Linked DNA regions of Homo sapiens: region 2 is reported to be linked to region 1. Evidence: microRNA targets listed by miRTarBase, many of them from high-throughput screens and not tested one by one. Region 1 holds a microRNA gene; the other region holds the end of a gene's coding sequence.

The links. Region 1 holds the annotated microRNA hsa-miR-3925-3p (ACUCCAGUUUUAGUUCUCUUG, at 2,495-2,515, opposite strand). A microRNA usually pairs through its seed, bases 2 to 8, with sites in the 3' UTR of a target mRNA and lowers its output. Matches are read on the target gene's strand: a 7mer-m8 pairs with bases 2 to 8, a 7mer-A1 pairs with bases 2 to 7 and ends in A, and an 8mer does both.
Region 2: the mRNA of ZNF594 is a reported target of hsa-miR-3925-3p. Seed matches in the 3' UTR shown: 8mer at 614-621, 8mer at 698-705, 7mer-A1 at 867-873 and 8mer at 1,193-1,200.

The regions. Positions count from the first base shown.
Region 1 is chr6:36,619,952-36,624,481 of GRCh38, forward strand. MIR3925 (microRNA 3925) reads right to left here and starts at 2,561; the gene lies at 2,485-2,561.
Region 2 is chr17:5,178,355-5,182,354 of GRCh38, reverse strand. It overlaps ZNF594 (zinc finger protein 594), which reads left to right. Exons shown (of 2, transcript NM_032530.2): 2 at 1-2,820. The coding sequence ends at 522. Among named protein-coding and RNA genes, the nearest start is that of ZNF594, 12 kb to the left of the region's middle.

The DNA.
Region 1 (4,530 bases):
TTACAAAAAATACAAAAATTAAGGCCAGGTGTGGTGGCTCACGTCTGTAATCCCAGCACTTTGGGAGGCCGAGGCAGGCAGATCACTTGAGGCCAGACATTCGAGACCAGCCTGGCCAACATGGCGAAACCCTGTCTCTGCTAAAAATACAAAAATTAGCCAGGCATGGCTGGGTGCGGTGGCTCATGCCTGTAATCCCAGCACTTTGGGAGGCTGAGGAGGACAGATCATGAGGTCAGGAGTTCAAGACCAGCCTGACCAATATGGTGAAACCCCGTCTCTACTAAAAATACAAAAATTAGCTGGGTGTGGTGGCACGCACCTGTCGTCCCAGCTACTTGGGAGGCTGAGGCAGGAGAATCGCTTGAACCCGGGAGGCAGAGGTTGCAGTGAGCCGAGATCACGCCAATGCGCTCCAGCCTGGGTGACAGAGCAAGACTCCATCTCAAAAAAAAAACCAAAAAAACAAAAAAGCTGCGTGGTGGTGCACGCTTGTAATCCCAGCCGCTTGGAAGGCTGAGGCACAAGAATCACTTGAGCCTGGAAGGTCAAGGCTGCAGTGAGCTGTGATGGCGCCACTGCACTCCAGCCTGAGTGAAGGGCAAGACCCTGTCTCAAACAAACAAACAAAAATCAAAGGATGAAGTCACGTAGATTTTGGGCAAATTGTTTTCCAAAATCTGTTAGCATAATTCTACAGAATGTCAAAAAGATAAAGACATCCACCAGTAAACCCTAATTGTTTGATGGTTGTAAGTAGTCACTTGAGATGTGACCGCAATAGGGGCCTGCCCATGGGGAAGGTGGCATACCCACCCATCTCCTGTGCCAACATGGCGTCCCTATCTCCTGGTAGCCCTGAGGCGAGGGTCAGGTGAAGGAAGTTGGGATCATCATTTACTCAGTTTGCCTATCTGTAGAAAGGGGGTATTTGGGCTGAAGGTGGCCTGTAACTCACAGGATGATCTGTCCCCTCTTCACACTGCACCCTGCAGTGAGGGGAGCAATGACTGAGTCAACCACTGCTTTAGGCAGCGGGGGTCCTTGATAAGGAGATAAGTTTGCCACACTGGGACTGATGGTCCTCAAGTTCTTTTCCAGCACCGATATTCTAAGATTCGGTGACTCCAGAAAAGCAATAAGGCCGTTGTGAGGAGGGCAGATCCAGAGGATGATCTTCCTGGAGGGGAGGGGAAAATGTTCAGTGCATACAGTGGGTAATGGTTCATCTGAGGTGGCATCAGACTGTACAACAAGCAGGGATTGTTCTGCAGGGTTCAGGCGACTGTTAGTATTTGATCAAGATTGGAATAGTCTCCTAAAACCTACTTGATCCTCACAGAAAAGTTCCTATCCCCATTGTGCAGATGTGGAAACTGAAGGTTAGAGATAGAAAGTTAGACCCTAGGGTGAGGCAATGGATGGCTAGGACTAGAACCCAAGGCAGGCTCCTAGGGCTCCTGCTTTTCCAGCACGCATCTACCATGCATATGTGCTACTACCAGGCCTGGCGCTAGGATTCACATCACTTTAGAGGCTGCTTGGTGAACATGGGCACCCACAAAAGCCCTGGAGAAGGCAGGTTCTTTCTCAGGAATGGCCAGTGGGTGTGAAGATCACAGTGTGGGAGAAAGATCAAGGAGGACTGAGGGCCACCCGACCAGGAATCATCTCCAGCAGCCTGTGGGTGACCGCTCGTCATCCAGATCAGCATCAGGAAGGTTCTGCACAACACCTCTAGGGAACACATGGGGATCGAGGTCCTGTGGCCGTCTTGGGGTCTGAAGATCTAGATTTAGCTTCTGGCAGTATCATGATGCAAACCTGGGCAAGTTGTTTTGTTCCCTGGACCTTGGTCTCTTCATCAGTGAAATGGAACTAATTATATTACCTCATAGGGCTATTATAAGGCCTAATAAAAAAAAAAAAGAAAGCATCCATAAACAATGTTTACTGAGCACTAGTAGTGCCAGGCACTCTTCACTTGTATTAACCCATTTGATCTTCACAAAAAATATTTTCTTTTTTGTTTGAGACGGAGTCTCCCTCTGTCGCCCAGGCTGGAGTGCAGTGGCGTGATTTTGGCTCACTGCAGCCTCCACCTCCCAGGTTCAAGTGATTCTCCTGCCTCCGCCTCCCGAGTAGCTGGGATTACAGGCGCCCGCCACCACACCCGGCTAATTTTTTGTATTTTTAGTAGAGACAGGGTCTCACCATGTTAGCTAGGATGGTCTCGATCTCCTGATTTCATGATCTGCCTGCCTCGGCCTCCCAAAGTGCTGGGATTACAGGCGTGAGCCACCGCACCTAGCCCACAACAAATTTTAGAGAGTAGGTACTATTGCTGTCCCCATTTTAGGAAACACAGAAGTTGGTTCCAGCCACAAGGAAGTGGCTTCATCCATCATCAAGAAGTTGATTCCAGCCCACGTGGATGGCTTTGAGGAGTTCAAGACTTTAGTGGAGGAAGTGATGAAAGATGTGGTGGAAATAGCAAGAGAACTAAAACTGGAGTCTGGAGATGTGACAGGCTCCACTTTCAGTTCTCTTGCTATTCCCACATGACCATGGTCCAGGATCCTGAGTTTATGTTCAGGAAATAAGACTCAGCGAAAACTTGCAGTCACTTTCATAATCATTAATGCAGAGATTCTCAATAAATTCTTAAGGCTCCACCACGCTCCAACATAAAGTAACACATTCAGTTTGTTACAGAAATGGTAATAAGGCAACACTATGCAATACTATGTGTACAATGCAGCACTTTGCAGTACCAAAATCCATGCCTACAAAGCACTGCACAAGAACACATACAAATAAAGGATATAGTAGAATGGCTGCCTGTGGGGTGGGGGCATGGAAATGACAATGGAGTGAGGGGGGAATACATGAAGCAAGAGGTGACTAGTCAGGACCAATGATGACAGCCAGCCATCACCTGGGGAATAGGAGGGACTCATCCCACTGCACCTGAGGACTAAAAATAAAATGGAATGGAAACAAGACCCTGGGTGAAATCACTCGGCCTGAAATACACTGGCCCTGGGCTCAAAGAGGAAAGGTGGGGACACATCCTGGGCTGCCTCATCAAACCAGGAGCCTGCAAGAGCATCCCTGTGTGTGTGTGGAGGGGGTGAGGACAAAGGGAGGGTCAACCACACCCAGTTCTGTGAGCTCAAACACCAGACTAAAGGCCACAGGCAGACCCTCCAAGGCCTCAGGGAAGGAGTGAAGAGAAAGGCCTGGGTGGTCAGTGTCAGAGGCGGCACAGTCACATGCTGTCATGCCTATTTCACCAAGGTTTAGCCAAATGCACTATTAGGGTGTCAAGAAAATATGGATATAGGGCAACAATCCTGTGATTGTATGATGACTGTAGGCTTGATCATCATAAGGGTCCTGCCATATGCTGGTCCAGTTGGCACACCCACCCATCTCCTGTGCCAGTGGAGTGTGCCTGTGAAACAGCAGTCAGCTCTTCTGGTGGCCCTGAGGATCGGGGTGAAGGAAGAGTGGATCTTCATTTAGTTAGTTTGCCCCTCTGCAGGAGGAGGGGAGTTGGATACAGACCTCTCCTAACAACCCGCCTGGCTACTGGAACCTTCCTGAGAAATGTGGTTAACCTCTGGGCGCAGAGCCAGCAGTTCTAGGCTCCCGTCACAAGGGGGCAGGATGGGGAAGAAAACAGGTTCTCAATTCCAGGCCTTGGACCTGTCAGGTTTGCTGGCAGGGGCAGGAAGGAGGGTGGGGTCGGGAGTGTGTGGTGGTTGATGAGGGATCCAACCATCGTTCCGCAAGAGCGGCTTGTTTATTAAACATGAAATGAGGGAAAAGCCTAGTAGCTCCATTGGATTGGGAAGAATGGCAAAGAGAGACAGGCGTCATTTTCTAGAAAGCAATCTTCACACCTGTTGGTCCTCACCCATTGAATGTCCTCACCCAATCTCCAACACAGAAATGAGTGACTGTGTGTGCACATGCGTGTGCATGTGTGAAAGTATGAGTGTGAATGTGTCTATATGGGAACATATATGTGATTGTATGTGTGTAACTATGTGTGACTGGCAGCGTGGGGAGTGCTGGTTGGAGTGTGGTGTGATGTGAGTATGCATGAGTGGCTGTGTGTATGACTGTGGCGGGAGGCGGAAGGGGAGAAGCAGCAGGCTCAGGTGTCGCCAGAGAGGCTGGGAGGAAACTATAAACCTGGGCAATTTCCTCCTCATCAGCGAGCCTTTCTTGGGCAATAGGGGCAGAGCTCAAAGTTCACAGAGATAGTGCCTGGGAGGCATGAGGCAAGGCGGAAGTACTGCGAGGAGGGGCAGAGGGTCTGACACTTGAGGGGTTCTAATGGGAAAGGAAAGACCCACACTGAATTCCACTTAGCCCCAGACCCTGGGCCCAGCGGTGCCGGCTTCCAACCATACCAACCATTTCCAAGTGTTGCCGGCAGAAGTTAACCTCTCTTAGCCTCAGTTTCCCCACCTGTAAAATGGCAGAAGTAACCAAGCTTACCTTCCCGGCAGTGTGTGA
Region 2 (4,000 bases), not on the chromosome of region 1:
GGTAGCTCAGATCTTATTAAACACCATCGTATTCATACTGGAGAGAAACCCTATGAATGTAGTGAATGTGGGAAAGCCTTCAGCCAGAGGTCACACCTTGCTACACACCAGAAAATCCATACTGGAGAGAAACCCTATCAGTGCAGTGAATGTGGGAATGCCTTCAGGCGGCGTTCCCTCCTTATTCAACATCGGAGACTTCATAGTGGTGAGAAACCCTATGAATGTAAGGAATGTGGGAAACTCTTCATGTGGCACACGGCTTTCCTCAAACATCAGAGACTGCATGCTGGAGAGAAACTTGAAGAATGTGAGAAAACCTTCAGCAAGGATGAGGAGCTTAGAAAAGAGCAGAGAACTCACCAGGAAAAGAAAGTTTATTGGTGTAATCAGTGTAGTAGGACCTTCCAGGGCAGCTCAGATCTCATCAGACATCAGGTAACTCATACAAGAGAGAAACCATATGAATGTAAAGAATGTGGGAAAACTCAATCAGAGCTCAGACCTTCTGAGACATCATAGAATTCACAGTGGAGAAAAACCTTACGTATGCAATAAATGTGGGGAATCTTTTAGGAGCAGCTCAGATCTTATTAAACACCATCGTGTTCATACTGGAGAGAAACCTCATGAATGTAGTGAATGTGGGAAAGTCTTTAGCCAGAGGTCCCACCTTGTCACACACCAGAAAATCCACACTGGAGAGAAGCCCTATCAGTGCACTGAATGTGAAAAAGCCTTCAGGCGGCGTTCACTCCTTATTCAACGTCGGAGAATTCATAGTGGTGAGAAACCCTATGAATGTAAGGAATGTGGGAAACTCTTCATGTGGCACACAGCTTTCCTCAAACATCAGAGACTGCATGCTGGAGAGAAACTTGAAGAACGTGAGAAAACCTTCAGCAAGGATGAGGAGCTTAGGGGAGAGCAGAAAATTCACCAAGAAGAGAAAGCTTATTGGTGTAATCAGTGTGGTAGGGCTTTCCAGGGCAGCTCAGACCTCATCGGACATCAGGTAACTCATACAGGAGAGAAACCATATGAATGTAAAGAATGTGGGAAAACTTTCAATCAGAGCTCAGACCTTCTGAGACATCATAGAATTCACAGTGGAGAAAAACCTTATGTATGCAACAAATGTGGGAAATCTTTTAGGGGCAGCTCAGATCTTATTAGACACCATCGTGTTCATACTGGAGAGAAACCCTATGAATGCCCTGAATGTTGGAAGGCCTTCAGTCAGAACTCACACCTTGTCAGTCATCAAAGAATTCATACCAGAGAGAAACCCTTTGAATGTAGCAACTGTGGTAAGGCCTTCAGTGGGTGGACAGCTTTTCTTAAGCACCAGAAACTTCACATTGGAAAGGAATTTGAAGACTGTAAGAGTCTACAAACAGGACCTATTCTAATAGGTAGCAGAAACCTAATGAATGCAGTAAAACTAGGAAAAGTCTGATGGAGACCACATCTTATTGCACTACAAATGAGTTTTATTAGAAAAAAACCATGGGAAGGTGGGAAAGCAGAGAAAATACCTACTGGATTTTTCAAACGTAAGTATAATCAAGTGGAAAAGCCAAAAGCTCTTGGACATAATCACCTTTTTTTTTTCTGTCTCAGAACTGACACTAGAATATGGTCCCAACGATACAATTTTTTAAATTATTTATTTTTTAACATACAAAGAGATGAGGTCTCACTATGTTGCCCAGGCTGGACTTGAACTCTTGGGCTCAAGCACTCCTCCCTCCTCAGCCTCCCAAAGGGTTGGGATTACCGGCATGAGCCACTGCACCAGCCCCAGGGGTCTAATTACTTGAGAATGTTTTAAGGGATGTCTATCATTATTAAAATCATTATAAATCACTTTGGCAACAACCCCAAAACTAAATTATTCATGGAAAGAGCCATTTCAATCTTGACTTCCTAGTCGAGTGACAAGTTTAAATGTGGGAAAAAACCCTGTGAAAGTAATGAGTGTAGGCCAGGTGCGGTGGCTCGTACCTGTAATCCAGCACTTTGGGAAGCCAAGGTGGGCAGATCACGAGGTCACGAGTTGATCATGAGGAGTTACTATGCCCAGCCAACATACTAAAACCCCGTCTCTACTAAAAATAACAAAAATTAGCCAGGCATGGTGGGGCACGCCTGTAGTCCCAGGTACTTGCGAGGCTAGGGCAGGAGAATCACTTGAACCTGGGAGGTGGAGGTTGCGGTGAGCCAAGATCATGCCACTGCACTCCAGCCTGGGCAACAAGTGCGAAACTCCATCTCAAAAAAAAAAAAAAGTCTAACTCTTCTGCTTGTCTTTACAATGCTGTACAGTGAGAGCTAATGTTTATAAGGATAAACAGGATACTTACAGGGATTTGAAGGTAATTTAATTCAGTGGTTTCCAACTTTTTAATCACCAAGGCCTTCTTTTTACTCCCCTATGTCCTGTGTCTTAAAAGATTATGTTTACCAAACTGCATTTATTAAAGAATTATATTTTGCTACATAAAGGCATGTACAACACAAATCATGCTTCTGACTGGCACCATGTAGGCAGACCTAGGTACTAAAATTCCAGCCCAAAGCAAATAATTTACCATTTTCATTAGTCTTTTTATTCCTTTTGTGGGCAAACATATCGTCTATGTTAGGCTTTTTGAAATATTAACTATGACTTGTAAACTCCAGATTAAAAACTAACCAATTCATCTTTGATGGAGCTTGAATCAAACTAAGGGTATTGGACTTTTGAAAGATTGAAATTTTTGTTACAGTATGGAATGTTTTTAACTGAATGTTGAAATAAAAGTTATTTAAGAATTACTTAGTGACTGTTTAGTATGTGCCAGGGGCCGTAATTAGATGGGGCTGAAGAAAGATAGTCATTGTTGAATCTTCTTCAGGTAGACCAGGTCCTCCTTGAGGTTCTCAGGCTGCATCTCCAGGTTGGCTCCGGCCAGGGTCAGCTTGTCCAGCCCCTGGTGCAGCTCCAGAGACCCAGCCTCGCTTGGTGCAGAAGTCATTGGCAGCCAGGTGGGCATCATCCACCTGTAGCCAGCACTTCTCCATTCTGCCAACGTCTCCGGCCTGGTGAGTCTGGATGTGAGCGCATCCCAGGGGGCCCAAGGCACAGAGAGAGAGAGGAACGGGGTGGAGGGAGGGAAGTGTGTGCAGGGGCCAGGAGCGCCAGGCTGCTCGGGCTTCCCGGCCCCTGCAGCCCGCCAGGAGCTGTGGCCAAGGCAGAGGCCTGCCCTGCTGCTGCTGGCGCTGTCACCTCCCTGTGGTCCTGCCTTCTGGGTCCTTGAGGGCCTCCTGTCATCTGGAACTGGAAATAAGTTAGTGAAGCGACGTTTTGTGAATATTTATTGGCCTTTGCGTCTTTGTCTTCATTTTCAGTGCTGGCTTTTCTGTTGGGTCATTTGTGTTCTTATGTTGATTTGAAGAATTTAAAAAGGTATTCTATAAATTAATCCTTTATGGGGTCATTTCTAGTGCAGATAGTTGTTTCTTAGTCTGGTCATTGTACCGTAATTTTATTTCACATTTCTTTCTTGCTGGTAAATAAGAATCTAATTGATTTTATATATTGATTTTGTATCTTGTTACCTGGTTTAATTCACATATTCATAGGCATCATTTTTGGATTGTGGTGGGTTTTTCATGTACTTATGTACATGTAGTTATGTACTTATGTACTTAAATACTTAACGTACTTACATACTTATGTAGTTAGTGTCAGCCACATATAATAACACCTATATTGCTTAAATGTTGGTTCTTACACCTTTATTTTTCTTTATTTTCTTCTTTTATTGTCCCCATCACACCTCCTGAACACGGTGTGTCTGGTTCTGATTCCAGGGAACAGGTTTCAGTGATCCTGTATTCCTTATGTAGTTTATTATAATTTCATTTTAGACAAACAATGAGATTAAGGAAGCTGCCTTCTTTTACATATGCTAAGAGTTATTTATGACTAATTGTTGAATTTGAATAAATGCTT